2 separate regions of the Homo sapiens genome follow, and region 1 is linked to region 2. The links come from fine-mapping of genetic effects on gene expression. A gene starts in region 2. The other region holds a variant in brackets. All regions are shown on one strand. Distances are between the middles of the regions. Region 1 has its middle 3.9 kb from the start of MGAT1. Region 2 holds the start of LINC00847 (long intergenic non-protein coding RNA 847).

Region 1 (3,008 bases), 24 kb after region 2:
TGGTGGGGGGAGAAGGCGGGAATGGTCTAGATAACCTCCTAAGTTGTCTCCCTTCCTACTTCTATAAGGGGAGCTTAGCCCATGAAAGCTCGGGAAAAGAGCAGAGGAACAGAACACAGGTTTGGGGGTCAGGAAGGAGTACTTGTGTTCTAGCTTTGACTTTTTGAGTCAGTGTACAACCCTACACAGGCCATGTTCTCTTCACCTACAAAATGGGGGAAAACTGACTTTCCAGGTCCCTTACAAGTTGTTACGAGGAGCAAATGAAACAAGGATTTTGAAAAGTATCCAGGGCCGTGTACACAGGAAACAATAACATCGATGTTGCTCTACGTGCCTTAAAAGCACAGAAACAACTCTGAGTCAGGAGTTCTGTTTTCTTCTTGAAATAGTGTGCTGGCAACAGCCTAAGAAGATGTCCTTAGTGAAAAGCCTGCCCCTGAATGTGTTTCATCATCTTGTTGGTAAACAGTACTTGGGATCATCAAGTTGTAGAACAGGTGAATAGATCCAAGGAGAACTTGGATTGAAGGAGTCTTGCAGATACTGCATTGGCCCTTATGGCTCTCCAGTCCAATTTCAGTGTGCCCCTTTGAGGTAGCTGATTAAAGAGGGGGTGGAAGGATGCTTAAGCCTTGAGGGCAGGTGTCTGGCTAGGCACTTTTCTTGGAGTGAGTGGTGGTCTTTACCTTCCTGTGCCATATGCTAGTTATCTCTCCCGCTCCTTAAGATGACGTTTTTTTCCAGACATCTCTTCGCCCTTTGTATTTTCTCAGGCTGTATTCCCTATAAAAGCAGCCCTGTTTGTCTTTATCTTCTCACTTCCTGTCTGCTCCCTCCTTCAATTCCAATTTACCTGTGCCAAGATGCCTGCTTTTCCCAGGGACAACACACAGCAGAAAGGAGGGGTAGAGCACAGTGTTGGGAATTTTGAGAGACAGTAGGGTATGGTGGCCTGGGCAAAGGGCAGGAGGCCTGGCTTCTGGCATGTCTCTGCCTCTCCCTAGCTCAGTAACACCTAGGCCTCACATGTTCCTTGAGGATGGGTGACAGTGAGGTCATCTGCAAACTGAAAATCCTGTACTTATGCCTTACTTTCCATGTTAAATTTTTTTCTTCCATCCCCTTCCCCAGTCTTTCCTTTTTTGCCACAGGAGTTTTCCTCACTCCCTCCAGCGGCTTGAGAGGTGGGCAGTGGCCTGGGTGGAGCTGCTGCTCCCGAGCTGTACTTTCTCCTCTGGTCTGGTGCCTGGGGCAGCCCCTTTGAGGCCAGGCTGCTCCTTTATAAGGTGTGGGTCTCAAGATGGGTGTACCACCTTCCCCAGCTTCACCCAGCAAATTTCTGTTGCCAGTCTTTGCTTAGACACAGGGGTCACAGTGATCCCTCGGGGATACGTGATGCCACGGTGCCTCCTCAGCCATCTCTGGTATCCCAGGTACCAGGGAGTTGCGTATTTGCGTAATGCTTCTATCACGTGATCCA[G/C]TCAATCTGTTTTGTCTGTTTTCCCTCACCACTTTGTTGTGAGGAGAACAGAGCAGGGATTCTTTTCCCAGTTTGAGGGGAAGCTACGGAAGCCCTGAGTGGGAAGGGTTTGCCTAAGGGTAGAGCGGTAGGCACTGAAATCACCTCCCAGTGCTGTGCTGTTTCCACAGCATCTGACCTGACCAGGCCATCTGGGTTCTGCTGCAAACCTCCAGGGAGAGAAGCTCTGTGCCCTGCCAGACAGCCTCTCTGGTAGAACGTTTCCTCCTTAGAGTGAGCAAGCATTCCTCTCCCTGACCTTCCCACCCTCCTGCCCTGCACCTGACCCTTCCATGAGACAGTCCCTTCAAGACAACCATTGGCTTTTTCACATGGGCACCAGGATGCCAAGGCATAGCACTCAGCAGGTGTCAGGCTACTTAGCCAGGAGCAGTGATAGACTTAACCAGACTGTGTGTGCATTTTTTTTTTGAGACAGAGTCTTGCTCTGTCGCCAGGCTGGAGTGCAGTGGTGCGATCTCGGCTCACTGAAACCTCCACCTCCTGGGTTCAAGCTATTCCCCTGCCTCAGCCTCCCAAGTAGCTGGGACTACAGGCACACGCCACCACGCCCGGCTAATTTTTTGTATTTTAGTAGAGATGAGGTTTCACCATGTTGGCCAGGATGGTCTCAATCTCCTGACCTTGTGATCTGTCTGCCTTAGCTTCCCAAAGTGCTGGGATTATAGGCATGAGCCACGGTGCCCGGCCGTGTGTGTATTTTAACTCAATTAATTATTTATATCCTTCTTTATTCCAAAAAGAATTGTAGGTGGCTAACCAAAAGTTACATTTCACAGACATTGTTTAGTGATTATTATGTTAATCTTTCCTCTTTGACCTGGATGAGATGAATTTCTGGGTCTCCATTGTGGGGTGAGGGAGAGGGGCAAGCAGAGATATTAGGAGGCAGGGAGAAGGGAAACAAAACACTGATTTAAAAAATTTGCTTTTACTTTTTTTTTTTGAGATGGAATCTCACTCTGTCACCCAGGCTGGAGTGCAGTGGCATGGTCTCTGCTCACTGCAACCTCCGCTTCCCAGGTTCAAGCAATTCTCCTGCCTCAGCCTCCCGAGTAGCTGGGACTACAGGTGCATGCCACCACACTTGGCTAATTTTTGTATTTTTAGTAGAGACGATGTTTCACTATGTTGGCCAGGCTGGTCTCAAACTCCTGACCTCGTGATCCGCCTGCGTTGGTCTCCTAAAGTGCTGGGATTACAGGCGTGAGCCACTGCGCCCAGCCTGCTTTTACTTTTACTGATGTTTTCAAGCCAACATATGTTTTAATTTAAGGGCATGAATTCTTTCCAAATTGTAAAAAGTGTCAGGGATCTTGGGCATGGTTTATGGGAGGGCAGTTTCCTGGAACAGTTTTCACTTCCTTTTCATCTTTTCAGTTCTCTTTTGTCAGTGGTGGAGTGGGCAGGGGAGAGTATTGTTCCTCTGCCTAATCTTGTGACTGTTTATCCTCCTGGATAATCT
Region 2 (2,747 bases):
TGGAAGCCCAGGCGCAGTGGCTCATGCCTGTAATCTCAGAACTTTGGGAGACCAAGGCAGGAGGACTGCTGGGGCACAGGAGTTTCAGACCAGCCTGGGCAACATAGTGAAACCCCATCTCTACAAAAAATGCAAAAATTAGCCAGGCATGCTGGTGCACCCCTGTAGTCCCGGCTACCTGGGAGGCTGAGGTGGAAGGTTCACTTGAGTCCAGGAAGGTTGAGGCTGCAGTGAGCCATGATTACGCCACTGCACTCCAGCCTGGGTGACAGAACAGACTGTCTCAAAGAAAAAAAGAAATTAGAAGTGAATCTCACTGGGCTAAAATCAAGGAGCCAGCAAGAGTTGTGTTTTTTGTTTTTTGTTTTGAGATGGAGTCTCGCTCTTGTCACCCAGGCTGGAGTGCAATGGTGCGATCTCAGCTCACTGCAACGTCTGCCTCCCAGGTTCAAGCGATTCTGGGGAGGGGAGGAGGAGGGAAGCAAGGAGAGAGGAACGCAGGGAGCAGAGCCTGACCTGGTCACAGGGGTCTGGGAAAGACAGAGGCTTTGTTAGAGCCGGCAGCTGAGGGCCGAGGCCGAGCAGGGGTTAGGCCAGCACAGGACGAAAAGGAAGAAAGTTCCAGGTGGAGTCTGGTGGAGAAAGACCGACCTGGAAGGCACCAGCATGTGCACGTGGCAACTGAGGTCGAGGACGTGCCTGAGAGAGAGGAGGAAGGTGCCCTGCGGACCGGGTAGGGTGCGGAGGTCGGGAATGGAGAACGGTCGTTGGGCAGGTCCGGGTACCCGTAGCCAGAACCACCCGGGTGTGCGCAGCTCGGCCAGGCCCCGCCTCCCGGCGTCCCCGCCCCCTGCTGGGCCTCTCTCCGCAGCCGCGAGACCCGCGCTTGGCGCATAGGCCGGTTCTAATTTACAAGAACACCGCGGCCTGAGGCCGGAGAGTCCCTTCAACCCGGGAGGCGGCGGCTGCAGGGAGCCGAGACGGCGCCATTGCCCTCCAGCCTGGGCAAAAAGAGCGAAACTCCGTCTCAAAAAAAAAAAAACATGGCCGAAACCAGGAAGCTGCGCGATGGCGCCACGGCCCCTCTTCTCCCGGCCTGTGTCCGGAAGGTTTCCCTCCGAGGCGCCCCGGCTCCCGCAAGCGGAGGAGAGGGCGGGACGTGCCGGGGCCGGAGCTCAGAGGCCCTGGGGCCGCTCTGCTCTCCCGCCATCGCAAGGGCGGCGCTGACCTGAGGCCTCCCCGCAAAGGTCCCCGAGGCGGCGGCGGCGGCGGGCTGTGAGAACCGCAGAAGAACGCTGGGCGCGCAGCGACCCGTCCACCCCCGCGAGGAGAGACTTCCACAGAGGCAGCGTTTCCACAGCCCAAAGCCACGTTTCTAGGGTGATGCAGCCCCAGTAAGTTCCTGGCGGGGAAGCTCACGGCTGTCAAAAGAACTCTTCGCTCCAGCCGGCGCACGAAGGGGAGGAGGGCAGGAGGCTGCCGCCCGCACAGGTCATCTGATCACGTCGCCCGCCCTAGTCTGCTTTTGTGAATCTCCACTTTGTTCAACCCCCACCCGCCGTCTCTCCCTCCCTGCGCCTTCCCTCTAACCTTAAAGACCCAGCTACCTCTACGCAAATGGTAGCTACCTCTGCGCAGGTGGAAGTTGAGTTCGGTTCACGCGGGACCCTCTTCCCTGTGGCAAGCTGCTGAAGGAGACCTGCTGTTACTGCTTTAGCTGCTGTTCTGCTTAATCTCAGACAGCTGGAAGGTAGTATTCCGCCCTCGCCCAGCCACCCGAGTAAATGAGAATGATGACTGACTGAGACCCTGATGGTGGTGGCTTAGGCTTAATCTCAGACAGCTGGAAGGTAGTATTCCGCCCTCACCCAGCCACCCGAGTAAATGAGAATGATGACTGACTGAGACCCTGATGGTGGTGGCTTAGGCAAGATGAACGTCTGAAATGGAGGCCCAGGGCTGCCACGATGGCTCTGTAGTCATCAGGGAGGGAGCTCCTTTTATCTTGTTACCTACTCCCCTCTTGTGCCCCTTTCTTCCCTTGATCTAAGAAGGTTGCTCCGGATCTCGCCATCTGGCCTGCGTTCAATCAGCAGAAGCTTCCTGGAGGAGCAGGAGGAGGCACTGTGCTCGCATCACATACCAGTGGCCAGAAGTTGGCTTCAGGGAAGCTCAGGAAATAGGATGCGAGAAGCCATGAGACCTCCCCAAACTCTGCAGTAACAGAGTCAACAAGACAATGGCTTAAAGATGGAGAGACCAGTTGATCGGTCACACAAGCTGTTCCACGATAATTCTTGTGTCAGAAGGGGAGGCTGACTACCAGGACCACTGGCCCCACTTCCAGCCCCTCCATTCTGAGTACACTTCAGAGGGCTCTGGCAGGGTGAGGGGGTCTTGGTGGTGCCACAGAGAGTAAAGGTCTAGCACACCCATTGTGGAGATATTTCATGGGGACAACCCAGTGACTTCACTTGAAGTAAAGTGGGATTTTCCAACCTTGAGATTCTTATTTTCTTTGGTATGCGTGTGGAAGAAGTATGAAGGTGGGGGTTGGGAGGGAGAGCAAATGAGCTGTGTGTATGAGGAGCTGGGGCCTGGCTCTTGACAATATCACCCACCCCCACCCCAGGCTTTCCTTGGGGCAGAAAGACTATGGCCGGGGCTTTCAGTGTCGGCTCCGAGGTATAGAGGTATAACCAGTGCTTTTGGCTAAGTCACGTCACTGATGAGCTTCTCTTTCCACC

What was found. PIP is the estimated chance that this variant, and not a neighbour inherited with it, causes the effect.
Region 1: its variant is fine-mapped to the expression of LINC00847 in whole blood (TOPMed, PIP 0.93).

The regions. Positions count from the first base shown.
Region 1 is chr5:180,805,231-180,808,238 of GRCh38, reverse strand. It overlaps a transcript of MGAT1 not described here. Among named protein-coding and RNA genes, the nearest start is that of MGAT1, 3.9 kb to the right of the region's middle. The variant G/C (reference allele first, on the strand shown) is at 1,484.
Region 2 is chr5:180,829,711-180,832,457 of GRCh38, reverse strand. LINC00847 (long intergenic non-protein coding RNA 847) reads right to left here and starts at 1,501. Exons shown (of 3, transcript NR_045679.1): 1 at 1,229-1,501. HEIH (hepatocellular carcinoma up-regulated EZH2-associated long non-coding RNA) reads left to right here and starts at 840. Exons shown (of 1, transcript NR_045680.1): 1 at 840-2,504. It also overlaps a transcript of ZFP62 not described here. RefSeq lists silencers at 126-295, 736-865, 1,226-1,275.